7 linked regions of the Homo sapiens genome follow. The protein of the gene in region 1 purifies or fractionates together with the protein of each later gene. This does not show direct contact. Each region holds a gene or a part of one and is shown in the gene's direction. Other genes may lie near its edges. The genes, in order: SEC23A, PLGRKT, PRRC1, GARS1, SNX3, DCAF4 and PRMT3.

Region 1 (4,499 bases):
CTAATTTGAAACTTGGCAGACTGAGGTAGTGGTGCTGCAGTTAACTAAGAGAACATACTAGGGGAATTTGCAGGTTTAAATGGGGAGGATAATGAGTAATGAATGCGTTAGTCAATGAATAGTGAATAAGATTTGAGAAGGTAGAGAAAGTTGAAATTTGTTCTTTTTCTTCTGAGACAAGAGTCTCGCTCTGTCACCCAGGCTGGACTGCATTGGCACAATCTTGGCTCACTGCAACCTCCGCCTCCCGGGTTCAAGCTATTCTCCTGCCTCAGCCTCTCGAGTAGCTGGGACTACTGGCACCCGCCATCATGCCCAGCTAATTTTGGTATTTTTGTAGAGACGTGGTTTCACTATGTTGGCCAGGCTGGTCTTGAACTCCTGACCTCAGGATATCCACCTTCCTCGGCCTCCCAGAGTGCTGGGACTACAGGAGTGAGCCACCGTGCTCGGCCTGAAGTTTGTTCTTTTAAGAGGTTTGTTGAAGGTAATGAAGGAGGAGATAGCATGGGAATTTGAGAGAGAACTGAGTTAAAGAGATGTACTTTAGGAGGAAGGAGAAAGGAAAGAGACTAAAGAGGGTGAGTTAAAGCAAGAGTGAGATGAGGAAAGTCAGGTTTAGGAAGACATAGTAGGGATTCCTTCAGGAGCACAGGAAGCGGAGTACCTTAGAGAGGAGAATCATGTTTCCATGAGACAGGAGAGAAAGTGAACCAGTTGAAATCTCTGTGCTTTAGTTTTTTTCAATTGTAAAATAGAGATAGTAATAGTATATACCTTATAGTGTAGTCATGAGAATTAAATGAATTGTACATTTAAGCATTTGCTACTATTAATGTTATTATTAAATTATGAATTTATTTAGAATAGTTTACTGTTCTGATTGTAGAGTACCTTTTACTTATATAATGCATATGAAGCACATAAAACATCTTCCTTTTTTTTTCTTTTTTTTTTTTTTTTTGACACGGAGTCTTGCTCTGTCACCCAGGCTGGAGTGCAGTGGCATGATCTTGCAATCTCCGCCTCCTTAGTTCGAGCGATTCTCCTGCCTCAGCCTCCCGAGTAGCTGGGACTACAGGCGCATGCCACCACACCCGGCTAATTTTTTTTTTCTGTATTTTTAGTAGAGACCGGGTTTCACCATGTTGGCCAGGATGGTCTTGATCTCCTGACCTCGTGATCTGCCTGCTTTGGCCTCCCAAAGTGCTGGGATTACAGGCGTGAGCCACCGCGCCTGGCCAATTTTTGTATTTTTTAGTAGAGACAAGGTTTCACCATGTTAGCCAGGCTGCTTGAATTCCTGAGCTCAGGTGATCCCCCTGCCTCAGCCTCCCAAAGTGCTGGGATTACAGGTGTGAGCCACTGAGGCCGGCCTAGTTTTTTTTTGTTTGTCTGAGACAGAGTCTCGCTCTGTCACCCGGGCTGGAGTGCGGTGGCACGATCTCAGCTCACTGCAACCTCTGCCTCTTGGGTTCAAGCGCTTCTCTTGCCTCAGCCTCCCAAGTAGCTGGGATTACAGGAGCATACCACCATGCCTTACTAATTTTTGTATTTTTAGTAGAGTTGGTGCTTCACCATGTTAGCCAAGGTTGGTCTTGAACTTCTGACCTTGTGATTTGCCCACCTTGACCTCCCAAAGTGCTGGGATTACAGGCATGATCCACCGCACCTGGCCCTAATTTTTGTATTTTTAGTAGACATGGGGTTTCACCATGTTGGCCAGGCTGGTCTTGAACTCCTGACCTCAGGTGATCCACCCGCCTCGGCCTCCCAAAATACTGGGATTACAGCTGTGATTCACTGCGCCTGGCCACATCTTCCTTTTTTCAATAGGCAAGTGAATGCCTGCAGACTGAATTTTTTTTCTCCATTGAAACATGTTTATTTTCTTTCCCTATTTAGATTAAATTTCCCTATTCTTTCCCTATTATTAGTTGAAAAGAGCCTGGCCTTTGCTCCCCAGATAGTCCTGGATTCAAATCTTAAACTCTTCTGGTTGTATGATCCTGGGTTTTTGTCTTTGCTGATTGTGTCATCCTTCATAGAAAGGAATAAACTACCTATTTTGCCAGGTTATTAGTACTAAATATGAAATTCTCAATATGGTGTAAACCCTTATAGAGCTTTATAGAAAAACCTGGATTTAAAATCTTGCTTTGTTACTTACTGATTGTGTAACCTCAGACAAATTACTTAGTCTTTCTGATTGTCAATTTTCATTTATAAAGTAGAATTTAAGAAGAAATCTATTTCATTATTGTTTTGTGAGGAAATAGTATATATAAAGGTTTTAGCATAGAATATGGAACATATTAAGTTCTTAGTAAAGAGTTGCTGTTTCTGCTAACAGTATAGGAAATATTGCAGGATTAGTTCACTAATTTTATCTTTGTACATCTTTAGACTTCAGTTTTCTGTTACACAGTTTTATAACTCCAGTACTTCATGACTAAGCATTTCTAGATTCAAGAAAAATTTAGTATAACATTATTTTCATTTGTCTAGAGAGAAATTGTGCACATATCTGAAATTCAAAACAAAGGTGGCAGTTCGTAGTTTGGTTATGAATTACATTAGAAAATCAAGATGTATATAGGTACAAAGTACGTGAGCCTTATAACTCCCCAAGTCCTAACATTTACTACTGTTGCAATTTTACATTTATTTATCTGTTGATTTGATTAATTTATGTTTCTGGATTTTAATTTCCATGAGGGAAGGGACTAGTTAGTTTTTACCATTGTATTCCTGCCACATAGCAGGTGCTTATGATATAGTTTGCTGAAACGGATGAATGAATATAAATTAAGAAGTATGGACATTTAAGTTACACAACAATTTATTTTGACTGTTAATTAGAAATAAAGTGTTTTTGAGCTAATATGCCTCCTCTTTGGTTATATAACACCTTGTGCTTTTCTCTCTCATGATGATTATTTTGTGTTATTGTTTTCTTGATAATCTCTCCCACTGGATTCTTTGTTTTCTGAGGAAGGAGACCTTGTATTTTTTATTTTTGTGTTTCTAATGTCTAGCACAGCATTTTATACATGATAAATAGTTGATAAATCTTTGTAAAAGTAATTAAATGAATATTGCACAAGTAATCTCTTTACAGGAAATGCTGGGGCTCTCTAAAGTACCACTTACTCAAGCAACACGTGGTCCTCAGGTACAGCAGCCACCTCCTTCCAACAGGTAATAAATATGATGAAGAGAATTTGACCGTTTCTGTAGCTATTTTAAACATTCCATACCCTTGAACATAGGCATTCAGTGATACTATATTGTTAAATATTTTTAGGAATATAAGTAAATTGTATTAACATACTTTTTAAAGAATTGAGTCAAAATCATGTCATTAAAATGGTTTGTTTTTTGTCTTAACAATGTAAGGAGTTACTTTAGTTTTGTTATTTTCCTTATTTTTTATTTTGAACTTTGGAAAAAACTTGTTTTTGTGTGGTTTTAGGGCAGCCAAGGTTTTTATTTTTTCTTCTTAGCTTTAGAGGTAGCTTTTCCCGCTAAGGTTTCTGGAGTGCAGTGGCATGATCTTGGCTCACTACAACTTCCGCCTCCCAGGTTCAAACAATTCTCCTGCCTCAGCCTCCCAAGTAGCTGGGATTACAGGCATGCACCACCATGCCTGGCTAATTTTTGTATTTTTTGTAGAGACGGGGTTTCACCATCCCAATCTCCTGACTTTATGATCCTCCCTCCTCGGCCTCCCAAAGTGCTGGGATTACAGGTGTGAGCCACCGCGCCCTGCTAGCTTTTTCCCCTAAGCTTTCTAATCAGAGGTAGTATTACTAAAATTTAGTTGATGTATTTTCTCATAATTATTTCAGTAACCTAAAACTTACTAGACTAGTGAGAGATGAAATCCTGAAGTACTTGGTTTGAGTGTTTCGTTTATTGTGGTTGTATTCAAAATGTGGTTTCTGGGGCTGTTATCATCACGTGTCACCTAGGAATGCGTTTGAAATGCAAATTCTTCGGCTCCACTCCAGACCTACCGAAACAAACTCTAGAACTGGGACCTAGCAATATGTGTTAAAACAAGCCCTCCAGCTGGTTCTCATATACACGAAAGTTTGAGAACCATTGGTCTGCTGTGTGTTCAGAGTGTTGTTTTCTATTTTTAGGAAAGTGAAATTTGTTTATCGAACTCTCACCCATAAACATTTACAAATGGCTTTTTATTTAATTCTGTTTCTTAGATTCTTACAACCAGTACAGAAAATAGACATGAATCTCACAGATCTTCTGGGAGAACTCCAGCGAGACCCTTGGCCTGTACCACAGGGAAAGAGACCTTTGCGTTCCTCTGGGGTGGCACTTTCCATAGCTGTAGGACTGCTGGAGGTAGGGAAGATGGTTTTGTTTTGGAATGTAAAGTGTGTGTGTGTGTGTGTGTGTGTGTGTGTGTGTGTGTGTATATATAATTATAAGGATAAGAAGAACCAAAGTGCTTTTTTTCCTCCCTATTCTCTCAC
Region 2 (4,499 bases), on another chromosome or scaffold:
AGTCTTCTTGTCTCTTTAGCTTCTTCATCCCTCACGCTGCCCTTTCATACTGTTTTCATTGGGAGCAAGTAACTAAGCAAAGCCCAAGATCAAGGGGTGGGAGTTAAGCTCCACTTCTTTGAAGAGGGAGGAGGAGTATGTATATAAATGAGTTGGAATTCTTCTGTACAGGATATTTGTCTCTTCTCCATTTATGTTAGTATAGGCTTATGGATATTTATTTTGTACTTTAGGTTATAATCCAACACTATGTTATTTATTTTGCTGATAAAATTGTTCCAGCTTTGGACATTAGGAGCTCTTTCAGATTGACCCCTGTGTCCCTTTGACATACTCCATCATCATTATTATTATTTTAGTATCTCTTGACTTTCTGGCACTATAAGATTCTGTAGGCTCCTCTTATACATTTCTTGCCCCAGTCCTAGGCCAGCTATTTCTCTAAGGAGCCCTGGTTTATTTATTTATTTTTTTTTGGAGAGTAGAAATCATGTCTGGGTGTTTCTGGGTGTTAGGTATGCTTGTTTGCAAGGGGTTGTTATTGCCTCTATGCCCTGTCAGTGGACAGAGCTGAGAAAATGTATGTACTTACACTAAGCCATGAATGCCTAATCTATGCATGCATATAGATATGCATATCTATAATTTCATCCTTGTCTATGTCTGTATCAAGCACTAAGCATGAGTTCATACGGATGTCATTGGCTCTAATCCAGTACCACATGGTTCATTCTAGTCTTTTCCTCTTGCTTGTTTGTAATCTCCCTGTTTAATAATAAGAAACCTGGCTTCCACCATCTTCTGTCAATTTACTTGTTGCTCATCTCCAGTAGACATGTAAAGCAGTTTCAGAATTGTTAATCTGTAACTCGTGAGAGACAGTTTTACTCACTAGAGTACAGTGTTTATGTATAGTCCTTTGTCTTTAGTTTTACAGTTTTTAGTCAAAATACCATTTTCCAAAGATAGATCAGTTCTTTTCCCCCAACCCTTCATTGAGGTTGTGCCACACATTTGTAGCACAGTCAGATTATTTTGTCACAGTCCCCATTCCATCTTGTGCATCCCTTGCCCTTTTGGCTGATTTGTAAAATTTGTATGCACTAAGGTTCACTCTGTGCTGTAAAGTTTTATGAGTTTTGACAAATGCAGAATGTCATGTATCCACCACGATAGTACCATACAGATTAACTCCATCACCCTGAAAGCCCCTCTGCTCACAATCTTTTGAGAGTTCCCAGGTAATCTCTTTCAGGTTGATATCTCAGGTTGATCTTTTGTGGGAAAAAAAATATGAGCTATGAGTCTTTCATTTCAGGTGACGGTTCTCAGTCCCGGCTGCACACGGGAACTATCTGGAAGCCTTTAGAAATTATGGATGCCTGATTTTACCTCCAGATCCTGACTTAATTGATCCCACTTGGTTTAGTTGGTCTGGGAGGTATATCTGGTTACTAGACCTTTGAAAATCTCCCCAGATGCTCATGATGTGCAGCAAAGGTTTAGAACCAGTCTGGACTCCTCTATTTCTTGTTTGCTGCCTTTTGATAAAAACACAAATAATTAATTGCTGTATTTACATCACTTTGGGGGATATGATGAATCAGTATGTAAGTTTTGTAAATAAGTAATGTGGCAAGGATGAATTTCACACACTAATCTTGTGCAAAAACACATCTATTTTTAAACTCTAATTGAACTCAAAATGAACCTCAGTTTCTCTTGGTGACAGCAAATTTAATTTTGACAAGTCAAAGTTACTCAATTACTTCTAGTTTAAAACTCGGTTCTTTGGGAGAAAATAGTTGAATTCAGCTTTCCTCCTCCCCTTCTCCGTTCATCTTTTCCCTGGTATGACCTAGGCTTGGGTCCAGGTGATCTCAGGTGGCACCAGCATCAGGGAAGGCACATCTAGCCAGATGCATCTGGGGATCCCCAGACAGAGAATTATGGCCCTGCTTCCTGTGGAGAATGTTGGGAGGGAGCAGGTACTGCAGAGCATAAATGGTTTCAGAGCAGACCTCACAGAGAGCATGCCTAAGAGAGGCCACTTCCGTCTCCCTCAGCGGCCAAGGGGTGTGAAGAAAGTCTGCAAGGTTCTCACATCAGCTGGAGAGGGCCAGAGAAGGTAGCTGAAGATTGAGAGCAGGTGGCCTACCAGAGTCCAAAACCTTGGGCCAGGGGACCCCATAACACACACTTGGGAGTGAATATAAGCCAGTGGCTGAGTGGGGAAGGCCACTGGATCCCAGAGGATCAGTAGCACCTGAGAGTATGGCGATGATGGTTACGCCAGCCTGGAACATGGCCACATGCCCTTAGGGAACATCATGTGGCGCTGTCCAGGTTGATTGAACAGAAAACAAAGCAGAAAAGCACTCTCGGGTGCTGCTGATCCTCTGGGATCCAGTGAGTGGCCTTCCCCACCCAGCCACTGGCTTATGTTCACTCCCCAAGTGTCTGTTATGGGGTCCGCTGGCTCTAGGTTTTGGACTCATTGGTAGTCCCCCTGCTCTCAATCCGCAGTTACCTTCTGTGCCCCTCTCCAGCTGATGTGAGAACCTTGCAGACTTCCTCCACACCCCTTGGCTGTTGAGGGAGATGGAAGCGGCCTCTCTTAGGTGTGCTCTCTGCAAGGTCTGCCCTGAAACCATTTCTGCTGTGCTGTAGCTGCTCCCTCCCAGAATTCTCCGCAGGAAGCAAGGCCACAAGTCTTCTCTGTTTAGGGATTCCCAAACCCATCTGAGGCTTCCGTCATATCTTCTGGTGATTTAACCTCCCAAATAGGCCAAGGAGCCAAGCCCCATCTTTACATCTAAACTATCATTCGCCCCTCCCAGCTACTCCCCTCAGTAGAAAGAGGGCATGGAGGGAAAACTAAATCACATTATTAGTCCTTCCTCTCCTCTTCCTTGCATCATGAACTCCCTGTGTATTGCCCTCTAGCTTGGCTAATGACATGTAGTGCCAAGATTTTAGAATTAAAACATCAACAACAATGCCAACAACACTTTTCTCTGTCAAGAATATAACTCTCTTCAAATAATGGGCTTGGGTTTACAGACAGTTGCTTCTCCTGAGTATTTTCTAAAAATCAATTTAGAAATTCAGTTTCCTTCTCTGTTCTGAGCCATCTGCCTTCTGTTCAAAGCAGTGAAAGGCACTGAACAAAGTGGTGAAGAACTTGAGGCGAGAAAAATGTGGCAAAGAAAAATCTCTATAGATGTCTCAAAACAACACCCATCTACTATGATATTGTGGTATGATATGGAGCAAATAAATACTCCAAATAAATTTCAATTTGGAATGGATTTGGAAGGCAGATTTCCATGCAAGTAGAAATAAAGGCCAATAAGATGTATCTACATTTAAAGACCCATAGATCTTTCCACACATCCAATAGGAAAAGCTGGACATTTATTTGAGACTTGGCTAAAGCTCCAGACCACAGGCAGTCAAGACCTCAGGGTGTAAAAATGGAATATTGATATTTATTCTGTATTTATTCCAGGAAGATTTCACTGCCAAGGTGACAGTTGGTGAGAGCTGTCCAAAGGAACTTTAGTCAAAGTCTGTTGAGATTTTTTTGAAAAAACATGAATTAAAGCAATTGAAGAATGAATCCGCTGGAAAAACAGATTATTAACTATTTGTTCAGATTCCAAAGATGAGTAACTTTACTTTGTCTTTTGTTTTGTCCTTAGCTGGAAAGGCAGCTCATCATGCAGAGTGAAATGAGGGAAAGACAAATGGCCATGCAGATTGCGTGGTCTCGGGAATTCCTCAAATATTTTGGAACTTTTTTTGGCCTTGCAGCCATCTCTTTAACAGCTGGGTATGTTTGCTATTTAACATTTTCTTCAGTCATTTACTTCTTTTTGTGTTTTCCATTACCATTTTATTATGAAGTTGGCCAGAATAAGACTTTGGTCCAAATAGTGTATGTAACCAAAGTAACCTATTAACCTTAGTCCTTGGGGGTAACTCTGTGAAAGCAAGGCAGTAACAGTTAATTTAGTTTCCTAGGTTGCTTCTGTCTTTTTCTCTACTTTATTAGTTAGAGAGAGAGAGCACCAACTTGACACCAAGAAGGGCTCTATGTGTTTATCTCCACAATCCCTTAGTGGTAGATACCAATCCTTACTCATTTTAAAAACAAGGAACCTGAGCTTCAGAGTCAAATAAAGATGAGCAAGTCACAGACCTTGCCCTTGAGAACTGCAGAATCTGGTTAGGGGTATTGGGTAAGGAAATCCTATTTCCATAGAATTATCAAATGTGTTAAGTAACTTCTGAAGGAAAAGGCATTCTTCCAAAAAGCAGGTATTTTTTTTTCTTTAAGTATACAGATATGTATTTACAGGTTATTTTTTGATATTGGTTCTTCTTTTAATTCTTGAAACAGAGCGATTAAAAAAAAGAAGCCAGCCTTCCTGGTCCCGATTGTTCCATTAAGCTTTATCCTCACCTACCAGTATGACTTGGGCTATGGAACCCTT
Region 3 (4,499 bases), on another chromosome or scaffold:
TGTTGTAGTGCATAGCTGAGATATCACCTGCAAAGAGTTAGGGGATGAATCTCTGTACATCTTACTAATCCCTTAATAGTTTTTACGGAATGAATGTTTACTTAAGCTTTTTAAAAATCAAACTTTAGCCATAACTGCTTCCTGGGAGGAGTGAATTAGGCAAATTTGTAACATCTGGTATAAATAACTAAGTTCATCTTATCTGTTAATACTGCTTTCAAAATCAACAGGTGCCTCTTTAAGTGTTATTAGATTTGGTGATGCCATATTTACACTATTTGTATTCTTAACATTGACCACATAGGCCTTCAGAAGCATTTATTTTTTTCTTTGTTCAGTTTTTTATGTGGTAAGTTCTTATTGAACACCTATTAAGTTAGGCACTGTGCTGGAAACTAGAGATAGAAGAGTGAGCAAAAATATACAATCTTGGTTTTATTGTACTTTAAATCCTATCATCTTCATCTTTACAAGCTAGTATCTTAAATTGTCTTACACGTTCTCGCACAGTTGTCACTTTCTCTTTTTCACTTCAGTTGTCTCTGAAATAAATTGAGTTTTCTCGAGATGTGTCCTAGCCTTCTTAATTTTCATTTGGATAAGAATTTACCATTTAATCTGATATTGTCTGTTTACCTCTGCTGTCCTTATAAAAATTATCCATGGCTACTTCTGTTCAGACTTCTTATCTTGCGTTTTGAACACATATTCATCACATTGTTCATGGTCACCTTTTATGAAAGGATTCAGATAAAAGCAATAAACAGAAACCTTTTCCCTCAGTCATCCAGCTTTTAGTTTTCTATTACATATAATCAGTTCATGTCTTCAATGGTAATTATTTTGTTGAATAAGCTGTGGTGTAATGTATACATTTGCAGCTTTTTATTTTAAGTAACTGGTCATTTTGGTGCATGTATATTTAAAAGGAATCAGAAGAAAGAGAAAAACATATTTATTATTGATATGATTGCCTACCTGAAAAATTCAAGAGAGAATTAACTGCAAAACTGCCAGAACTGATAAAAACTTTGTATGTAGTAAGATGGTCTCTTGCCAGATCAACATTAAAAAATACAGTTTTCTTAAATTATTTAACAGTAACAATCAATGAGAAAATGTAATATAAAAATAATCCACAATAGCAACCAACATCATAATGCATATGGAATAATTTGGAAGGTGTACCCCAAACTGTTGATACTACGGAAATGTAATTGTATTTTGTCATTTTTTACTCTACATTTTTGTATTGTTTGAACGTTTACAGTGAGTATATATATGTGTTTGCATATAAATGTATGCATGTATTGTGTAATCATAAATTAGTATATTTAATATGTAATAATTTGAAATGGTCTCTAACCTCTGCCATTGTTGTTTAGGGTGCTCAGGAACGGATAGATAGCTTGCGTCGAACTGGGGTGATCCATGAAAAACAGACAGCTGTGTCAGTAGAAAACTTCATTGCAGAATTGCTGCCTGACAAGTAAGTGTATTATGTTTCTCTTGGAAGCAAAATATAATTGGGTCTGGGAGTTGACACTGAATACTTAGCAAAAAGTGTCTCCTGTTTTATAACCAGAGAGAAAAGTATATTTTGATGCTGGCTATATCACTTAACTAGCTGTGTGTCCTGCATGGCTTAGCTGGCATTTCTATCCTTGTGTCTCTTTTTTAATTATAAAATGGAGATGGTCATGCCTGCTTTCTGAGATCATGCTAATAATTAATAAAATGGCACTAAGTATAAGATGATAGATTTGGTGTGGATATAATTGACCATGAGTAGCAAACACAATTATTCTCATAGTTATTCAAAGTCGTGGAATATATGGGCAAGAAGGCCTGATGGCATTCTCTAGGTTTGAGTTTCTAGTGAGCAGTATCTCTCCTGTACTCATAATAGTTTAGAAAAACCTCCAGACAGCATAATTTATCATTGTTTTTCAGGTGGCTTTTTATGGGAAAAATTTTTAATTTGCTTAATTGATTTATATTAGAATAACTTCCCTTTGTTGAAATCTACCTTCTTTTGTATTTGCATTATGGTTTTGTTGTTTTTATTTTTTATTTGTTTGTTCAGTGTTGAATAACAATGGGCATAGCATTTTGTGGCTTGTAATATGCAAAATATATCCTCCAACTTTGAGGCATATTATAGGCCAGTGGGAAAGAAGATATATGTAGTACACAGATGAGCAGTTTTAAGTAATTGTAAAAAGGAAACATAATTTTTTGCTGACAGGAAATATATAAAATTTCAGTGGAGGTAACTCTGTGGAGATAGTGTCAGGTGAAATTCATGAATAATTAGGGCTTGAACTGGATTTTGAAGAAGAGGTGAAACTTGGCCAAATGGAACAAAGGAAGTAGGATGTTCTGGGTGGAGAAAAAGTTTGAAGGTAATTGAAATGTATTCTTGGGTCAGTGATTATATCAACTTGGCTGAAGGTTTGTTGGATGGGAAATCAAGAGGTGACGGGACAAATTGTGAAGAGCTCTGAATTCTAGGTTGATAAGTTTCAACTTTCTATGTAAGCACTGAGAAACCGTCCAGTGATTGTTGTGTCATTTTTTTTTATTAACCTGTTACTGTTCATTTAATAATTAACATTAGAAATTACAATATGCCTTTTTGATATAACAAAAATTATAACTTGTGATAATACTAGTACTACTTTTAATACTATTCACTCCCTTTTCACCTTTTGCGGTATCATTGTTAAGTATTTTAATTCTGCATATATTTTAAGCTCTTAAGACATAACTGGTAATGTTCTTTGCAGTCAGTATTTGTTTATTCTCTGAATTCTTTCTTGCATTTCTGTTTTTCTGTCTGGGGTCATTTTTCTTCGAAAGGAAGCCTAAAGTACTTCCTTTGATAATACATTATAGTTCAGAGCTGCTCACTACCAATTCTCTCAGCTTTTGTTTATCTGAAAGTGCTTTAATTCACCTTTATTTTTGCTGGATGTAGAAGTCTAGGTTGGCAGTTTCTTTTCTTTCAGCACTTTAAAAATGTCATGGTACTGTTTTCTGGCTTCCGTCATTTCTGTTAAAAAGTCATCTCTCCATAAATGTTTTCTTTTGAGAAGTGTCTGTTCATGTCCTTCGCCCACTTTTTGATGGGGTTGTTTGTTTTTTTCTTGTAAATTTGTTTGAGTTCATTGTGATTCTGGATATTAGCCCTTTGTTAGATGAATATGTTGCGAAAATTTTCTCCCATTTTGTAGGTTGCCTGTTCACTCTGATGGTAATAGGAGTGGTGAGAGAGGGCATCCCTGTCCTGTGCCAGTTTTCAAAGGGAATGCTTCCAGTTTTTGCCCATTCAGTATGATATTGGCTGTGGGTTTGTCATAGATAGCTCTTATTATTTTGAGATACGTCCCATCAGTACCTAATTTATTGAAAGTTTTTAGCATGAAGAGTTGTTGAATTTTGTCAAAGGCCTTTTCTGCATCTATTGAGATAATCATGTAGTTTTTGTCTTTGGTTCTGTTTATATGCTGGATTACATTTATTGATTTTGTGTATATTGAACCAGCCTTTCTTCCCAGGGATGAAGCCCACTTGATCATGGTGGATAAGCTCTTTGATGTGCTGCTGGATTCAGTTTGCCAGTATTTTATTGAGGATTCTTGCATCCATGTTCATCAAGGATATTGGTCTAAAATTCTCTTTTTTTGTTGTGTCTCTGCCTGGCTTTGGTATCAGGATGATGCTGGCCTCATAAAATGAGTTAGGGAGGATTCCCTCTTTTTCTATTGATTGGAATAGTTTCAGAAGGAATGGTACCAGTTCCTCCTTGTACCTCTGGTAGAATTCGGCTGTGAATCCATCTGGTCCTGTACTCTTTTTGGTTGGTAAGCTATTGATTATTGCCACAATTTGAGATCCTGTTATTGGTCTATTCAGAGATTCAACTTCTTCCTGGTTTAGTCTTGGGAGAGTGTATGTATCGAGGAATTTATCCATTTCTTCTAGATTTTCTAGTTTATTTGCGTAGAGTTGTTTGTAGTATTCTCTGATGGTAGTTTGTATTTCTGTGGGATCGGTGGTGATATCCCCTTTATCATTTTTTATTGCGTCTATTTGATTCTTCTCTCTTTTTTTCTTTATTAGTCTTGCTAGCGGTCTATCAATTTTGTTGATCCTTTCAAAAAAACCAGCTCCTGGATTCATTAATTTTTTGAAGGGTTTTTTGTGTCTCTATTTCCTTCAGTTCTGCTCTGATTTTAGTTATTTCTTGCCTTCTGCTAGCTTTTGAATGTGTTTGCTCTTGCTTTTCTAGTTCTTTTAATTGTGATGTTAGGGTGTCAATTTTGGATCTTTCCTACTTTCTCTTGTGGGCATTTAGTGCTATAAATTTCCCTCTACACACTGCTTTGAATGTGTCTGAGATTCTGGTATGTTGTGTCTTTGTTCTCGTTGGTTTCAAAGAACATCTTTATTTCTGCCTTCATTTTGTTATGTACCCAGTAGTCATTCAGGAGCAG
Region 4 (4,499 bases), on another chromosome or scaffold:
ATCTGTGATGAGATGAGTGGTGATATTAACAAACGTGGATTTTTTTTTGATAGTATTTGGATAATCTGCGTAACTCAGTGAACCAGTGTTTTCCAGGTGACCAATGCATGATGTTATGAAATCAGGTATTGGTGAAAGAGCCATTCAAAGCTTAAGATACATTAATAGATTTATTCTGACAGTACAAAAAATTCATTGCTATAGTTTCTGAGTTAGAAATAACCTTGAAGAAGCTACCACTTGTCAGAGTTTTGAGGTAGTATCAAAGAATATCCACAATTATCCGAAACGGCTTTTAAAATTATTTTTCCTTTTCCACCTACATATGTCTTTCTTCATATACTTTACCCAGAACGTCATATTACAAAAGAAGCAGACTTTCCACATTGGTCTTTTAGGATTTTTCACAGATTAAGGTTACCAAAATAGTAAGTGCCAAACTCAAAATTTAAAAACCCATGAGGAAACAAGCCACCTTGAGTGAGACTTAGGGGAAATGATAATAGAATTAGATCCTCCAAAAGTATTAGAATAATCACATATTTTTAAAATGCTTAAGATAATTTTTAAAATAAAAGAAGTACTCAAAAACATGAGCAAAGAACAAGAGACTACCAAAAACAATCACACAGTGTGAAAATGAAGCACATATTGTATGGAAATGGATCACTGAAATTAGAAACTCTGTTGGGTGCCCAAGGGCTATATCAATTTAACAACTTTAATTACTCAGCTGAAAGTTTTTCATCCTATATAGGTAATATTTTGTTTGTTTACTCAGATGACCTATTCCACCATATTACTATAAATATGGAATTAGTATAAGTTGTTGGAAGTTAATAAAATAATTCAGAAATATTAGCAAGGAAAAAATTCCAACTGTAAAGAGAAAGGCAAAGGAAGATGAGCCAGCAGTGACTGAGAAGAATGGTCAGAGAAGTGGGAGGAAAACTGAATAATGTTTTTATTTTTTTTTGTAAGCGAGAGGAGAGAGATTTAAGAAGGTGGTCAATTTATTGGTTCTTCTGTGTTCTCAGTACAAATCTTGCTCTTTCCTACTTTTTAATCAATGCTTTTGTCTCCTCCTTTTTCACCCCTCTATACCCAAAGGAAAAAATTCACCATGTGAGCAGTTATTTGTTAACTTGCCCGTGTGTTCTTCTAGATTATTAAATGAAGAGGGCAGAGACCTTGATTCATAATGATCACTCACATAATAAACATTTGAATTGCATCATTCTTTTTTTTTTTTTTTTTTTTTTTCATTTTGAGACGGAGTCTCACTTTGTCACCCAGGCTGGAGTGTAGTAGCATGATCTTAGCTCAGTGCAACCTCCGCCTTCCGGGTTCAAGTGATTCTCCTGCCTCAGCCTCCCAAGTGGCTGGGATTACAGGTGCCCACCACCACGGCCGGCTAATTTTTGTATTTTCAGTAGCGATGGTGTATCACCATGTTGGCCAGGATGGTCTGAAACTCCTGATCTCAGATGGTGAGGAGGGCCTTTCAAAGTGCTGGTATTACAGGCGTGAGCCACCACGCTTGGCCTGAATTGCATCATTCTTACATAGACTTTTTAAAAGGCACGCTTAAAAACACATTCCTAACATTTCTTAACTTCTGAAACCAATCCTGAATATAAATTCTCTTTCTTGGCTAGGGAGATCTTGTGCGAAAACTCAAAGAAGATAAAGCACCCCAAGTAGACGTAGACAAAGCAGTGGCTGAGCTCAAAGCCCGCAAGAGGGTTCTGGAAGCAAAGGTGAGTCCTGGGATGCTAAAATAGGAACATAAGTAGGTATAGGATTGTTCATCTTTAATTTCTTTGGATGGGAGAGACCTAGAAAAGTTTCTGAACAAGTATCATTTGGTTTATCTGTTTATCCATAATGCCGCCTTCTCCTTTCCCTCTACCTGGTAGACTCCTCATCCTTTCAAAATGCAACTCAAAATGTCAACTTTTTAATAAAGCCTTCCTGACCCTGCAAATGCTGGACTCAATACGCTATATGAATTTCCATGGAAAGGATTGTGCTCTTCTTTACGACTTCTCTTATGCCTGAAAATAATGATTTTTGTTTGTTTGTTTGTTTTAAGGAAAAGGTCTGTTTATTTGATACCTGCTCCCAGACCTTTCAAACAATAGATCTCCCATCACCAAACTTAAGTTGTTTTGGGGTTTTAAAGTAACCATTTTGCTATAGCAATCCACTGACAATTCAAATATTGCTTTATATTGCTTATCAGTATCTACATCAAAGTAAACTTAGTCTTGTTTTTTTTTTGAGATGGAGTCTCGCCCTGTTGCCCAGGCTGGAGTGCAATGGTGCGATCTCAGCTCACTGCAACCTCTGCCTCCCGGGTTCAAGTGATTCTCCTGCCTCAGCCTCCCAAGTAGCTGGGATTACAGGTGCCCACCACCAAGCCCAGCTAATTTTTGTATTTTTAGTAGAGACAGTGTTTTGCCATGTTGGCCAGGCTGGGCTTGAACTCCTGACCTCAGGTGATCCACCCACTTCGGCCTCCCAAAGTACTGGGATTACAGGTGTGAGCCACCGCACCTGGTCAAGCTTAGTCTTGTAATCTTGGAAATGATCATATATTTTCCTAAATGATTAAGTAAAGATATCTTTTATATTACTCAAAGGGAAAAAAAGACCTATGGCTTCTATTGTTTTTAACCTATCAAAATCTTGTCTGTTTGATAAATTTTATATTTAATTCTGGTGAGGAATAAACTAAATTCAGATATATAAGTTCAGATTCCCACCCACCCCTCCACTCACTCACTTTTTATTTAATCTCTAACAGGAGCTGGCGTTACAGCCCAAAGATGATATTGTAGACCGAGCAAAAATGGAAGATACCCTGAAGAGGAGGTTTTTCTATGATCAAGCTTTTGCTATTTATGGAGGTAAGGGATTAATGACAAAAAGAACTATTGTGTTGTTAGTGGCTCTAATATTATACTTAAATCAAGAACATGGCTTGCCTGTTGGTATCCACTTGTATCAGGCCACAAAGCAGAGGATGGATGTTTTGCTTTTGTTTGCTTGGAGTCACCATTTGGTGTGATACCTGTTATTTTTCTCCACTGCATTTATTCCTGGACAGCACTTTTTTTGATTAGGATGTAGGGAATTGTTGGAGGCCCATGTATGTATTTGATGTGTCTGTGTACTCATGTACTCTTTTTAAAATGCAATGGAGACTGAAGAGTAACAGAGGGCCATTGTAGTACTGGCTAACTATACTATGCCCCTTCACACAGGGGCAGTGATAAAACAGTCCTTAGATTATTCTTTATGGTCATCTGCCAGGAGAAAACATTCTTCCCAGGGATGTAGATAAATCACTGTGAATGCCATATGAAGGTATATAGGCAAATACAATTCACTGATGAAATGTAAAACTATATTTTTCATAGTCAACGGATTATTACAACAACATTAGACATATAGTACTTTGCCACTGAAAGTTGACTTGAGTTTGGCTAAGTGGATCTGTAAATGTTTACCCTTTTGAGGTTAAATAGTGCCTCAAATACCCAGGAAAAAATTAGAGAATTGGATGCTAAAATTATAGATCATTGTTATCAGATGTGGTGAGAAATTATTTTGTAATTTTTACGGCAGAAAACTGTAATCTGCTTTTTCATTCTGTTCTCTAAGGGGGAACTTTTGTTGTAGATTTTGGGCTAGTCCTACTTGAAATTACAAATATAGAATTAGTAAATGGCGTAAGAGCTTTTTTATTTTACTTCCATCAGCTAGCTGAAAGTAAGGTTCTTCAGTATTGAGGGATTTGCATTGTTGACTTGAATACACTTTTAGGGAGTATAGGTATCAGTTTCTCATGTCTCCTTGCCTTCATTTGTTCAGAGTAACAAGGTAAAGTATGTGTTTTCCTCTCATATTCTATAGGTGTTAGTGGTCTGTATGACTTTGGGCCAGTTGGCTGTGCTTTGAAGAACAATATTATTCAGACCTGGAGGCAGCACTTTATCCAAGAGGAACAGATCCTGGAGATCGATTGCACCATGCTCACCCCTGAGCCAGTTTTAAAGTGAGATCTTACTTTGGAGTGGGGGTATCCTACTTTAAATAAAATAACTTATTAAATTATTTAATATACTTATCTAAATAACTTCCTGATTATAAAGAACTACTCATTTCATGTAGAAAATCTGAAAAATATGGAAAAGCAAAGAAATGTATACCTTCTGCTCACAGATAGCTATGTTAAGATGATTGTGTTTGTCCTTCCTGTTTTTTCTGTACGTCCCTATGTATTTCAGTGTTAGCAGTACACTGCTTATTTTCATGTAATATTGATGAACATATACTCATATCATTAACTATTCATCTAAAGCATTTTTAATGATAGCATAGTATTCTGTTTTATGGAAGTGCCATAATATGTTAGTTTGTGCCATATTGAAAGCATTAAAGTGTTTCTCATTTTTGACTGCACCGAATATCTTGATAGATGGATTTTTGGG
Region 5 (4,499 bases), on another chromosome or scaffold:
AGCACTGTGCTCTATCTATAAAATTTAATCTTGAGGTAACCAAGCAGAGTAGATAATATTCCTGTAGAAGCTGATCAACTGATCCTCATCTCTTGTCCTTTCCTCATTTTAACTCCAGTCCTGAACTGGTATCTCCCAATTAAGCTGAGTTCTTTTGTATCCAGGCCTTTTGCACACACTTCCTCCTCTGTTAAGAACAGGCTTCCTTTAAGAGCCTCATCTGGTTACTATCACTTATCCTGCAGGACTCAGCCTTAATGTCCCCTTTTTAAAGATTTTGCTGATCCCTTGACTCTGGACCAGATTTCCTTCCTGTGTGCCCTGGTAGCTTTGTTAGGAATAAATTTGTTTGCTTGTCTTTGGCTTCCTGTAAGTTCCTGTGTCACCCATTATAAGCTCTTAGAGGACAGGGACTGTCATAATCACCCTTACTCAATATCCAACACTGCTTGGCACATAGTGGACACTTACAAATAAATGAAGTTTAAGAAAGTTAACTTCCCCAGGGTCACAGCTATTAAATGGTAAAACTGGGATTTGAACCTAGATTTTCGGACCTTCAGAGCCCGTACTTTTGTTTGAGACAGGGTCTCACTCTGTTGCCCAAGCTAGAGTGCACGGTGGTGCAATCTGGGCTCATTGTAGCCTCGACCTCCTGGGCTCAGGCAACCCTCCCAACCTTCGCCTCCTGAGTAATTGGGGCTACAGGAGCACGCCACTATGCCTGGCTAATTTTTTTGTATTTGTAGAGACAGGGTTTCTCCATGTTGCCCAGGCTTGTCTCAGACAAGGTTTTACCATGGTTGCCCAGAGCCCTCACAGAAAATTCATATCACCTGAGGAGCCTTTGAAACCATTCAGGTTCTCTTTTACTGGGGTGGGGTGGGGTTTGGGCAGTGGCGGTTTTTTTTTTTTTCTTTGAGACGGAATCTCACTCTGTCACCCAGGCTGGAGTGAGGTGGTGCAATCTCAGCTCACTGCAAGTTCCACCTCCTGGGTTCATGCCATTCTCCTCCCTCAGCCTCCCGAGTAGCTGGGACTACAGGTGCCTGCCACCACGCCTGGCTAATTTTTTTTGTGTTTTCAGTAGAGATGGTGTTTCACCTTGTTAGCCAGGATGGTCTCCATCTCCTGACCTCGTGATCCACCCACCTCGGCCTCCCAAAGTGCTGGAATTACAGGCGTGAGCCACCAAGCCCGGCCGGCAGTGGTGGTTTAAAAAGCATCCCAGTAAGGGCACTTATATGCAGCAAGGATTTCTCCTGCTGCTTATCATGCTATCTGTCTCACTGAGATAGATAGACAGTAGAGAAGGAAGAGAAATATACATAGAACCACAATGGTTGGTAGCTTTGATGGGATTAAAAAAATAGATTCTAAAATAGTAAAACATAAAATGAATAGCAGATCTTGGCAACAGAGAGGAAAACCAGTGACATTTGTCAAAGATAGAAAACTTTTTGGAGGGGAGGCATTTAAATATTAACTGAAAGCATACCAATCTCTACAGCTTAAGTTTTTGGGAGGAAGGGGAGACACAGACTACATTCAATCAAGCCAGATCTTTTTGCCCTTGTCTTGCATCATCCATGTCTATATCCCTGTATAATAATCATGAAAGTAAGCCAGAAGTAAAAAAAAAAAAAAAAAAAAGACATATGTATTCATTTAAGAAAGGAATTTTTTGGAGACAGGTTCTCGCTGTGTTGTCCAGGCTGGTCTTGAACTCCTGGGCTCAAGTGAGCCTCCTACCTCAGCCAAGTAGTTGGGATTACTGTTGCATGCCATCAAGCATGCCTCAAAAAAGGAATCTTTATAAATATTGTCACTTTATACCTGTAAAGGGGAAAATCTAAAAAAGTGCTTTGAGCTATCCTGGTGATCACATGCAATAGACATTTTCCTCTCCTGCTCACCTTTATCATCATGCTTATCTCACCCCTTCCAGAAAGTAGTAGACTGTTATTATTAGATACTTTGATGTTTGTACCATGTTATGCTGCTTTCATGTAAATAGAGCCAGCAATTTCTTGAACATCAGATAAGAAAGATGGTGTCCAAAAAAATCTTGGAACTGCTATTTTCTTTTTTCCAGAAGTTTATTCTTAGGGCCGGGTGTGGTGGCTCATGCCTGTAATCCCAGCGCTTTGGGAGGCTGAGGCGGGTGGATCCCTCGAGATCAGGAGTTCGAGACCAGCCTGACCAACATGGCAAAACCCCATATCTACTAAAATACAAAAATTAGCCAGTGTGGTGGTGCATGCCTATAATCCCAGCTACTCAGGGGGCTGAGGCACAAAGATTGCGTGAACCTTGGAGGCAGAGGTTGCGGTGGGTGGCAGCGCGACTCTGTGCCAAAAAAAAAGAGAAAAAGAGAAAAAAAGTTTATTCTTAAATGTGCAACAGGCTCCAAGACATTTCATCCTTTGCTTCCTAGAGTGGAAGCAGAAGATTTTATAGTAGGAAATGCAGATATTTAAATAGGAATGGGATCAAGGGTCATCATTGCCTCGGACACAGTGGTTTGTTTTTTGGTTTTTGTTCTTGTTTTCCAGATTTCTCCCTTCTAAGTACTAACCAGGCCCAACCCCGCTTAGCTTCTGAGATCAGACGAGCAATTGCATTCAGGATAGAATGGCCATAGACTTTTGCCGGATTTCTTAATTCCACCTATCCAGGGAACCCTTCCCTGTGGCCTTTGCTTTTAGCTCCTCAAGTTTTTTCTGCTCCTCTTCTTGTTTCTGCTTGAAATCCTTGTCTTCCTCATACATCTCCTTGGCCTGTTTCTCGTCAGGGGCTTCTTGCCGTAGGTGCCTGTCAGGAAGCTGGACGTGGTGCCTGCCATCCCTTCCTTAGACCCAGCACAGGAAACTGGAACTGCAGTTTACTGTTTTGATTCCTTAGTTAAAAGACAAAGCTTTCAACCAAAGTTCTACTTCATTTTTTTGTTTGTTTGTTTGTTTTATTTATTTATTTATTTTTGAGACAGTCTCTCACCCTGTTGCCCAGGCTGGAGTGCAATAGTGCAGTCTCAGCTTACTGCAGCCTCTGCCTCCCTGGTTCAAGCAATTCTCATGCTTCAGCCTCCCAAGTAGCTGGGAATATATAGGTCGTGCACCACCATGCCTGGCTAATTTTTGTATTTTTAGTAAAGATGGGGTTTCATCGTGTTGCCCAGGCTGGTCTCGAACTCCTGGCCTCAAGTGATATGCCCACTTCAGCCTCCCAAAATACAGGCATGAGCCACCGCGCCTGGCCACTACTTCTTTAAAGAAATATTTAACTGACAACCTAGGAATTTGGAATGTGTTAGTAAAATGTGACGTTTGCTATAGCTTGCCAGAAAGGTTGTATCAGGTAGTATAGAGTTTGGGCTGTTCTCAGATAAAGAGGATAATTTTTTGTTTTTTTGGTTTTTTTCTCCACATGGAGAGGTTTCAGGTACAGTCCAGGGTTAGTATTGTGGCTTGACTATCAGCTTCTAACATCATATTCACATTCTAGCCAAGGGGAATGTTTATTTCTGCCCTTGAAGGACACAACCAGGAAGTCGTATTATTTCTGTTTCTGCGCATTGCTGTACTTAGCTACAAAAGAAGCTGGGAAATTTAACCAGGTGGCCATGTGAAGAAGGGAAGAGTAGACACTGTTCTTTGCTTTGCCACATTAACAAATGGTTGTGGTTGGCCCTTCTAGGATATGGCTTTAAGCTACACTGTGATCATCTGTTATTTCCTTTTTTTGCTAATGCCTGGAATTTCAGTTTAGAGTAAGTTCATTTGATTTGCAAGAAATAAAATTGTACTTTCATTAGTTTGGAAGTCTTAAGTGAGTAAGTTTTGATTCTTTCATGATAATTAATTTTGTTAAGTTGAGAAAAAAGGCAAGCATGAAGACATGGCATATCTGATAGGGGTATACCTTGAGATTGGGCTAGAGATTCTAAAGGTAGTTGATTAACCTTTTTTTTTTTCCTTCCAAGGCTGCTTAAAACTATTTTGGTTTTACTTAGGACCACCATTGTAGTTGCTGACATTGAATGATGGAGTATATAATTTGAGCCACCAAAATAAATGAAGCCAGTGTCTCTTGGCAGAGAATCACTTAATCTCTTAGCAGAGAAGTAGAGAATTACTTAAAATAATTTTGTAAAGTTACTTTGTGTCCAGCAGTATTGGAATGGTCATTTGATAATTATTTGTTCTGTAAACTTTGATTTTATCACTGATGGAGCATTTCTTTTGGCTTTCCTAAAGTTATTTTAGCACCTGCCACCTATAGCTTGTTTGCTTTCCGTTTTTTCTAGTCCTGCCCTTGTGGGATGAAGTTCTCTGTTGTATAAGTCTCGTCCATATTGAGAAACAGAGGAGTCTCAAAGCCCCTCCTTGTGTCTGGTCTTGGTATCTCACCCCTCTCTTGTCTTGACTTTACTGGTTATCTTCAAGTGGAAACAAGTAGAGAAAAATCTTGTCAGCTAGGCATGTATGTGTATATCACCA
Region 6 (4,499 bases), about 34 Mb from region 1:
TACTGGGTGTAGCGCACCCCGCCCCCCACCCCGCCCGGCCTCCTCTGGGCCTGCGCCTTGGGCCTATTGAGGCCAGGCCTGGAATGGTGCCCTGGAAGCAGGAAAGAGCCTGTAATTCCGGAAGCTGCGGGCTCCCAAACCAGACACCATTTTGGAGACCGGTGCAAAAATGTGTGCCGCTTTTGTGTGGAAAACTGCTAGACTGTGAGAGAGAGCCGACCTCCTCATGCATGAACCTTTATAGAGGGTGGTCCACATATTCTGTGCACTACATACACATACGCTGGGCACATACTGGCTCTCTGTGTTAAATCTCAGATTTGCTGCCGCGCGTGGTGGCTCACGCCTGTCATCCCAACGCTGCGCCAAGGCAGGAGGATCGCTGGAGGCCAGAAATTCGAGACCAGCCTGGGCGGCAACAAAGCGAGACCCCGTCTCTACAAAAATATTTTTTATTTTTATTTTATTTTTCCGTCAAGCTGTTCTTTATTTCAGGAAGAGGGCAGGGGAGGGGGCTCAGTCTTTCTTGGCAGCGGCTTTCCTCATGGCAGCCAGTACCTTGCTCAGCTCCTCCCGCTTCCTCTTGGCACGGATGTGCGTCCCCACCCTTTTCTTGATGAACTTGAGGGCCCATTTCTCCTTGAAGACCTTCAGTGACTCCATGGCGCGCAGCTCGTACGAAGCGAAGCCACACACCTCCCGGATCATGTCCCGCTACAAACTTGGTGCGTTTGCTCAGACGCCCGCGGCGGCGGCTGTGCCTGGGCTTGCTCACGTTCTTGGTCACCTTGTGGCCCTTGTTGAGGCCCACGGCCATAAGGTAGCGCAGAGCCATGGCTGCTGCTCTCCATGGCGGCCGTGGCGGAAGGCCAAAAATATTTTTTAAATTAGCCTGGTGTTGTGGCTCGTGCCTGTAATTCCGGCTACTCCGAGGTTGAGGCAGGAGGACGGCTTGAGCCGGGGAGATGGAGGTTGCCGGGAGCGGAGATCGCGCCACTGCACTTCAGCCAAAAGGGGGGTAGGAGGGAATAAGTAAATAAAATTAAATAAATAAAGTGGTATCTCACTGTGGTTTTGATTTGCATCTACCTAAGGACTAATGATGTTGGGTATCTTTTCATGTGCCAGTTGGCTATTTGTGTAGCTTTTTCTTTTTTTTTTTTGAGACGGAGTTTTTTTTGTTTGTTTTTGAGACGGAGTTTCGCTCTTGTCGCCCAGGCTGCAATGCAGTGGCACCATCTCGGCTCACTGCAGCCTCCACCTCCCGGGTTCAAGCGATTGTTCTGGCTCAGCCTCCCAAATAGCTGGGACCACAGGCGCCCGCCACCACACCGAGCTGATTTTTGTATTTTTAGTAGAGACGGGGCTTCGCCATGTTTATCAGGCTGGGCTTGAACTGCTGTCCTCAAGTGATCCGCCAGTCCCAGCCTCCCAAAGTGCTGGGATTACAGGCGTGAGCCACTGTGTCCGGCCCTAAATAATGTCTTTCGATGCACGGAAGTTTTCAATTTTGATGAAGCCCAATTTATGTGTGTATGTGTGTGTGTATATATATATATGTAGTGTGTGTGAGTTTTGGGTGTCATATTTGAGAAATCATTGCCTAATCAAGATCATGATGATTTATACCTTTGTTTCCTTCAAAGAGTTTTATAGTTTTAGATCGAGATCCATTTTGGTTCATTTTTGTCCCATATGGTATGAAGTAAGGATCCAAATTCATTCTTTTGCAGTTTGATATTCAAATGTCCCAGCAGTTGAAAAGACACTTCTTTCTTTCATTGAATGGTCTTGGCACCTAGATGAAAACCAGTTGACCATAGATAGGCATATGGGTTTATTTCTGGTCTCAATGCTACTCCATTGATCTATATTTCTATCCATATGCCAGTAACACAGTGTCTTGATTACTGTAGCTGTGTAATGAATTTTGAAATTGCGAGGTGCGAGTCATCCCAACTTTGTTCTTTTTCAAGATGATTTTGGGTATTCTGGGTCCCTTGCATAATATGAATTTAGGATCTGCTTTTCCATTGCTAAAAAAATGGCATTTGGAATTTTGATAGGGATTGCATTCAATCTGTAATTTCTTTCAACAGTGTTTTATAGTTTTCTGTGTACACGCCATATATTAATTTTGTTAAATATATTCCTAAGTACTTTTTCTCTTTTTTTTTTTTTTTTTTGTAACTGAGCCTGAGCAGGACCAGAGGAGTGCTTTATTCTTTTTGATGCCATTGTAAATGTAACTTTTCTTTCATATTCAGGCTGTTCATTGCCTGAACCAGTGTATAGAAATACAACTGGTTTTTCTATATTGATCTTGTATCCTGCAACCTTGCTGAATTCATTTGTGAGGTCCAGTAGATTTTTGGTGGATTCTTTAGGATTTTCTGTATATAAGATCATGTTTGGTTGCCTTTTCTTTGTCTTGCCTAATTGCCTGTCTAAAACTTCCACTACAATGTTGAACAGATGTATTGAGAACCAACATCTTTGTCTTATTCCTGACCATAGAGGGAAAACTTTGTCTTTGGCCACTAAGTATGATGTTAGGTGTGGGTATTTTGTAGATGCTCCTTATCAGGTTGAGGAAACTACCTTCTGTTTCTAGTATGTTGAATGTTTTTTTAATCATGAGAGGATGTTGCATTTTGTCCAGTGCTTTTTCTGTGTATCAATTGAGAAAATCATGTGAGGTTTTCCCCATCTATTAGTATGGTATATTGATTGATTTTCATATGTTGAACCAACCTTATATTTCTGAGATAAATCGCGCTTGGTCTTGGTATATAATTCTTTTTATATGCTCCTGGATTTTGCTTGCTAGCATTTTGTTAAGGATTTTTGTGTCTCTGTATTCATAACCCATACTGACCTATATTTTTCCTTCTTTTTTTTTTTTTTTTGAGAGATGGAGTCTTGCTCTGTTGCCCAGGCGGGAGTGCAGTGGCATGATCTCGGCTCACTGCAACCTCTGCCTCCCAGGTTCAAGCGATTCTCCTGCCTCAGCTTCCCAAGTAGCTGAGACTACAGGTGTGCACCACCACGCCTAACTAATTTTTTGTATTTTGGTAGAGATGAGGTTTCACTCTATGTTGGCCAGGCTGGTCTTGAACTCCTGACCTCAGGCGATCTGCCTGCCTTGGCCTCCCAAAGTGCTGGGCTTACAGGCGTGAGCCACTGCACCCGGCCTTGACCTATATTTTTCTTCCTATATCTTTGTCTGATTTTGGTAACAAGGTAATACTGGCCTTATAAAATGATTCGGAAAAATGTAGTAAATATCTTGGAATCATTTTTGTAGGAGCAGTTCCCAGAAGGAAGGCATGTACATTTGTAAGTTACTTGATAAATATTTTCCAGTCATTTTCCAAAAAACCAAATTGTGTTTATTTGTGATTAACATTGCCTTTGCAGAATAGTAGTCTCTTAGAAATTATAATTCTTAATGCCTTGAGGTACTTAAAAGTTTCTCTGAAAGACAAAGGCAAGCCCAACCTTCTGCAACACACCTGATTTTAACATCTAGAGCAGCTCCAAAGGTGCTAGATGCAGCATGTTACCAGCAAATTGTTTTCGAGTGCTTCCTACATAGAACAGGTTTTCTCAGCTTTAGCACTGTTTTGGGCCAGGTAACTCTTTTGTTGTTGTTTTTGAGATGGAGTCTTGCTATGTTGCCCACACTGGTCTCAAACTCTGGACTCAAGCCATCCTCCCACCTCAGCCTCCCAAGCAGTTGGAACTGCAAGTGTGAGCCATCACACCCAGCTGAATAATTTTTTTTTCTTTCTTTCTTTCTTTCTTTTTTTTAATGTTGTTTGTTTGAGACGGGATCTTGCTATGTTGCGCAGGCTGGTCTTGAACTCCTAGGCTCAAGCAATCCTCCTGCCTCGGCTTCCCGAGCAGCTGGGATTATAGGCATCAGCCACTGCACCCAGCCCTGGATAATTCTTGCTGAAGAATGTGTGGAAGCTGCCCTGCGCATTGTAGGGTGGTTAGCAGCATCCCTGGCTTTTACCCACTAGGCGCTAGTAGCAGCCTACCCCTCCTTCTCCCGAGCTGTGACAAACAAAAATGTCTCCAGACATTGCCAGATGTCCCCTGGTGGGCAAAATAATCCTTAAGAAGCACTGATCTACAAACTGTGATGCATACTGGGTTTTATATTATTACTAGATAAAATTGTCTCTAATGGCCAGGTGCGGTAATCCCAGCACTTTGGGAGGCCGAGATGGGCAGATCACAAGGTCAGGAGTTCGAGACCAGCCTGGCCATTATGGTGAAACCACATCTCTACTAAAAATACAAAAATGAGCCAGGCATGGTGGCATGCGCCTGTAGCCCCAGCTATTCGGGAGGCTGAGGCAGAAGAATCGCTTGAACCCAGGAGGCAGAGGTTGCAGTGAGCCGAGATTGTGCCATTGCACTCCAGCCTGGGTGACAGAGCAAGACTCCATCTCAAAAAAAAAAAAAAAAGTCTCTAATTCTCACTGTAT
Region 7 (4,499 bases), on another chromosome or scaffold:
CCAGCTCTCACCACAGTGCACACACTTAACAACATCAGTCATTTTATATCTATTTGACACTGATTAATTACTCTGATTCATTCTGGTATTATAGCCACTGCCTTGGCACTTTAGTTAGGTCTGAACAATTGAAGGGAGATCAGCAGTGTGAATTATGTATTTATTACTGTGACCCTTCATGCTACTTAATTAACTTAAATGATTGTGTGTGCACCCTCATCTTTGAAATATGATTATGGAAAAGATTTACCTGTATTTCATTTTAAGAAATGAAAATCATGGTTATCAGCATCAGCTTATATATATGACATTATGTTAATTTTTCAGCTGCTATATTGATGCTTAGCATTTTTTCTTTTGTGAAAAATTAACAAATATCCATTACTAATTCATTTTGACTGGGGTTTTTTATTTCTAAACTGAGGAATGCATAGAACTCTTATAGGTACATCCTTTGATCCTGAAATGAAGATGATAACCAGATTTATAAGCACTATGGAACATTTCTATTTTGACTTGCACTAAGGATTGAATAGGACTTCTATAAACAAGACAGCTTACATATTTTTAACACTCAAAAGGCAATGTAAATGAAAGAGCAGCAACCATCAGAACAAATGTACAAAAATGAAATATTTACTAGCAATACCTCATATGCTTCAATGAGAAAAGAAGTAAGGTAAATGCACCAGATTTTTTAGATGGTAGTTAAATAAATAGTACTTATCTCCTCTGATTTGAAATACAAATCAGAGCAATCACGTTTTGGTTGTTGTTTTTCATTTACTCTTTTGTTGATGAAGATGGCAGGAATGTAACACTGGAATATATTTCATACCTTTTATGAAGGAATTATACTTCTGATAATCCATCCTAAAGAATCAATTCAAAATTCAGACTTAAAAAATACTTGTTACACAAAGACACTGCTTTAATTTGCTTTTCTTTCTTTAAACTATCTTGCTTTATAGAATTTTTTTTCATTTTTTATAGTCACATCTGTCAACCTTTTGCTTTTGGTGTCTGGCTTTGGTTTCATCCTTTAAAAGATTATATTACTACTTTTGTACAATGTATTGAATCCTTTCCTCAGTGACTTAAAATGCTCCACTTACTATGTACTGAGTCTTCATAATTGATCTTATTTCTCTCATTTGTCTGTGTTTATTCCTAGGCACCACATTTTTAAACAAATAATTTACATATAATCAAAATTCACACATTTTGATTGTACAGCTCATTGAGTTTTGAAAATTACATATACCACTGTGGAAATATAGATTATTTCCATCACTCCAAAAAGTTTCTTCTGCAATTCCCTGTATGGTCAGTCCCCAACCGTGATTCCCAGACCAAGACAGTCACTGATATGCTTTGTCATTATATGTTAGTATTACCTTTTTAGAATTTTTATCAATGGAATTATACAGCATGTACTCTAGCTTTCTTGGCATTTTTTTTTTTTGAGATTCTTCTATCATTAGGTTGTTCCTTTTTATTGCCAAGTAATATTCCTTTGGCTATGCCACAGTTTACTTAGGTATTCACCTGCTGCTAGACTTTTGTATTGCTTTCAGTTAGGGGCCATTAAGAATAAAGTTGCTATGAATATTCATGTAAAAGTCTTGGTGCAGACAGATGTTTTCATTTCTCTTGGGTAAGTACCTAGAAGTGGAATTACTGGGTCTTATGGTAAGTGTATATTTAACTTTATAAGAAACTGGCAAATTTTTTAAAAATGACTATGCTATCTAACATCCCTAGGGCTAACACCATTGTGAATTCAGTTGTTCCACATCATTTTTAACACTTATAAAAAAGATGCAGTATTTTAAGCCGTTTTGAGTATGTAGTTATAGCTGTGCTTGTAGTTTTCATTTGCCTGATGTGATGTTGGGCATTGTTTCATATGTGTATTGGCCATTTTTATATCTTCTTGTGAGATTTCTGCTCAGATATTTTGCTTGATTTCAAATTGGGTGGTCATCTAATTGAGTTAAATTTAAAAGTTAATAATAGTTCATCTTTTCCCAAATGTATATTCACTTGCTCCATCATCATTTCTTAAAAAGACTATCCTTTTCCGATTTAATCGCCTTGGCTCCCTTGTCAAAAATTAATTGACCATATGCATATAGATCTACTTCTGAGCTCTCATTTTCCCCCAGGGATCTGTATGTCTGTCCTTGTGCCTTTAAGACAGTCTTTATAAGATTGAAAAAGAACAAAATGGCAAGATTTACACAAACAGTTGTTTTGGCTATTCTAGGTCCTTTATATTGCCATATAAATTTTAAAATCAGCTCATTAATTTCTGGCCTAAGAAAGCCTGTTAGGATTTTGACTGGGATTTTGTTAAATCAATAGATTAGGGAAAATTGACATCTTAACAACATTGAGTCTTTCACTCACGAGAGAGTGGGTCTCTCCATTTATGTGGACCATCTTTAAAGTTGTTTTGTAGTTTATGTAAGTCAGACATATATTGTTACATTTATCTCAAGTATTGTATGTGTGTGTGTGTGTGTGTGAGAGAGAGAGAGAGAGAGAGAGAGAGAGAGAGAGAGAGCGAGAGCGACTGAGACTCGGTCTGTCGCCCAGGCTGGAGTGCAGTGGCATGATCTCTGCTTACTGCAACTGCCACCTCCTGGGTTCAGGCCATCCTTGTGCCTCAGCCTCCCAAGTAACTGAGACTACAGGTGTGCACCACATGCCTGGCTAATTTTTGTGTTTTTAGTAGAGACAGAGTTTTGCCAGGTTGGCCAGGCTGGTCTCGAATTCCTTGTCTCAAGTGATCCGCCCACCTTGGCCTCCCAAGGTGCTGGTATTACAGGCATGAGCCACCACACCCAGCCTTTATGCTTTTTTGAAGCTGTTGTTTGTAGTATTATATAAATTCTTCATTGCTAGTACGTAGAAATAGAATTTTTATACCTTGATCCTAAATCATAAGACCTTGCTTAAACTTCAATAAATAGTTCTAGTAGCCTTCTTTGCATATAGCTTCAGGATTTTCTATGTATAAAACCAGGTAGTATGCAAATGAAAACTTTAATTCCCCCTCCCCCAGTCTGTATCCTTTTTCCCTCCACACTTTAATGTCCTGACTAGGACATCTAATAGAATACTTACTTTATGTTGGGTCTCTGGAGGTCATTTTGTTATTTTTGAATCTCAAGTGTCCATTATCTGTCTTTTCATATGTGAACTACTTTATACCAGCAACTAAATTAAGTAATTTGTATAAGACATACTGCTTGTAAGTAAAAAGGAACTAACAAGCCACTGTGTTGTAAAAATCAAGTTTGTTGATTCAGTGTTGGCAATTCAATAACAGTAAGTTAAACCCAATAACCAAGTTGGCAATTACTATTCTCTGTCATGTATTTACAAAAACATTGTCAGTTTATCATAATGTGGCTGTTCGTTCCCAGTTTTGGTGTCAATAAATAACTTAAATAGAAGTTTTTAAATGTTGATTTAAAAAGAAGCAAATAAAATAGCCAAAATAGAAAAGTCAAAATAGGAAAATCTTAAATGTGTTCAATATACTAATGATCTTTTATTTCTTCCTTAGGTTAATGCCTTAGATAAGAAAACGTGTATCATTGTTCATTAGTTATTATAGAATAATAGTTACATCAACTTACATATCAATTGTGTTTATAAACAAGTAAATATTTTTACCAAAAAAAAAAAACAAAACCCACGGGGCGGTAAAATTTAGGTCTATTTCTTATTCATTATAGTATATTTAAAGCTATAATCATCATTTTTTTAGATAGAGATAGGGAAGCACCAGAGTATAGTTGAGGAACTTGGGTTCTGGAATCAAACTGCCTTGCTGAAAATCCTAGTTCTTTCACTAGCTGGCAGATGACCTTGGGCAAATTACTTACCTTTTCTGAACTTCATCTGTGAGTAAGGAAAATGCGCTTACCTCATAGCAATATTTTGTGACCATTAAGTGAGATAAATCATGTAAAGACCTTAGAGTAGAGCCTAGCACAAAGTAAGTGTTGAATAAATATAAGCATAAATTATCTAATGATTAACCTGAACTCCATAAAGTTTGTAGAACTATCTGACTGGTAATCTTTATTATGTCCACTATTGGTGAACATGTCATATGAGATAGTTTTATATCATTTTCTTAATATAGAGGAATAGGTCAGATATAAAAGCTAAAGCCAAATATACACATTAACATATATACGTACACAAAAATTGTTATATTTTGTTGAATGGATTGCACCTTGGGCCACATTATTTCTTCTATTATTTAACTCCTTAATTATGTGTTAAACTGTGAGTCTCACCTTTTTTGCAAAGATGTAGAGAAGGTATCAGTAATGGAATCTTTATATTCTGAAAATAAATATAACAGGTGGTTATGTTTTACTTGTGTTATTTCACTACCATCTTGAAAAGCATTCAGATAATTTTCCTTGAATATGGGGAATTTGTATTTTTTTAAATACGATATTCATTCAGTACTT

The links.
Region 2: the proteins of SEC23A (region 1) and PLGRKT purify together in Homo sapiens (affinity purification with mass spectrometry; one large-scale study listed by BioGRID and IntAct). This does not show direct contact.
Region 3: the proteins of SEC23A (region 1) and PRRC1 purify together in Homo sapiens (affinity purification with mass spectrometry; 2 studies listed by BioGRID and IntAct, with this or other methods). This does not show direct contact.
Region 4: the proteins of SEC23A (region 1) and GARS1 fractionate together in Homo sapiens (co-fractionation; one large-scale study listed by BioGRID). This does not show direct contact.
Region 5: the proteins of SEC23A (region 1) and SNX3 fractionate together in Homo sapiens (co-fractionation; one large-scale study listed by BioGRID). This does not show direct contact.
Region 6: the proteins of SEC23A (region 1) and DCAF4 purify together in Homo sapiens (affinity purification with mass spectrometry; one large-scale study listed by BioGRID and IntAct). This does not show direct contact.
Region 7: the proteins of SEC23A (region 1) and PRMT3 fractionate together in Homo sapiens (co-fractionation; one large-scale study listed by BioGRID). This does not show direct contact.

Annotation. Positions count from the first base shown.
Region 1 is NC_000014.9:39,085,631-39,090,129, reverse strand, and holds part of SEC23A (protein transport protein Sec23A), read left to right. Parts: intron 1-3,121; coding exon 3,122-3,201; intron 3,202-4,223; coding exon 4,224-4,368; intron 4,369-4,499.
Region 2 is NC_000009.12:5,361,094-5,365,592, reverse strand, and holds part of PLGRKT (plasminogen receptor (KT)), read left to right. Parts: intron 1-3,704; coding exon 3,705-3,835; intron 3,836-4,405; coding exon 4,406-4,499. UniProt on the Homo sapiens protein: Receptor for plasminogen. Regulates urokinase plasminogen activator-dependent and stimulates tissue-type plasminogen activator-dependent cell surface plasminogen activation.
Region 3 is NC_000005.10:127,537,655-127,542,153, forward strand, and holds part of PRRC1 (protein PRRC1), read left to right. Parts: intron 1-1,385; coding exon 1,386-1,489; intron 1,490-4,499. UniProt on the Homo sapiens protein: May act as a regulator of the protein kinase A (PKA) activity during embryonic development.
Region 4 is NC_000007.14:30,597,138-30,601,636, forward strand, and holds part of GARS1 (glycine--tRNA ligase isoform 1 precursor), read left to right. Parts: intron 1-1,658; coding exon 1,659-1,760; intron 1,761-2,809; coding exon 2,810-2,912; intron 2,913-3,921; coding exon 3,922-4,063; intron 4,064-4,499. UniProt on the Homo sapiens protein: Catalyzes the ATP-dependent ligation of glycine to the 3'-end of its cognate tRNA, via the formation of an aminoacyl-adenylate intermediate (Gly-AMP).
Region 5 is NC_000006.12:108,250,548-108,255,046, reverse strand, and holds part of SNX3 (sorting nexin-3), read left to right. Parts: intron 1-4,499. UniProt on the Homo sapiens protein: Phosphoinositide-binding protein required for multivesicular body formation. Specifically binds phosphatidylinositol 3-phosphate (PtdIns(P3)).
Region 6 is NC_000014.9:72,929,096-72,933,594, forward strand, and holds part of DCAF4 (DDB1- and CUL4-associated factor 4), read left to right. Parts: intron 1-469; exon of another isoform or gene 470-661; coding exon of another isoform or gene 662-725; exon of another isoform or gene 726-869; intron 870-4,499. UniProt on the Homo sapiens protein: May function as a substrate receptor for CUL4-DDB1 E3 ubiquitin-protein ligase complex.
Region 7 is NC_000011.10:20,502,178-20,506,676, forward strand, and holds part of PRMT3 (protein arginine N-methyltransferase 3), read left to right. Parts: intron 1-4,499. UniProt on the Homo sapiens protein: Protein-arginine N-methyltransferase that catalyzes both the monomethylation and asymmetric dimethylation of the guanidino nitrogens of arginine residues in target proteins, and therefore falls into the group of type I methyltransferases.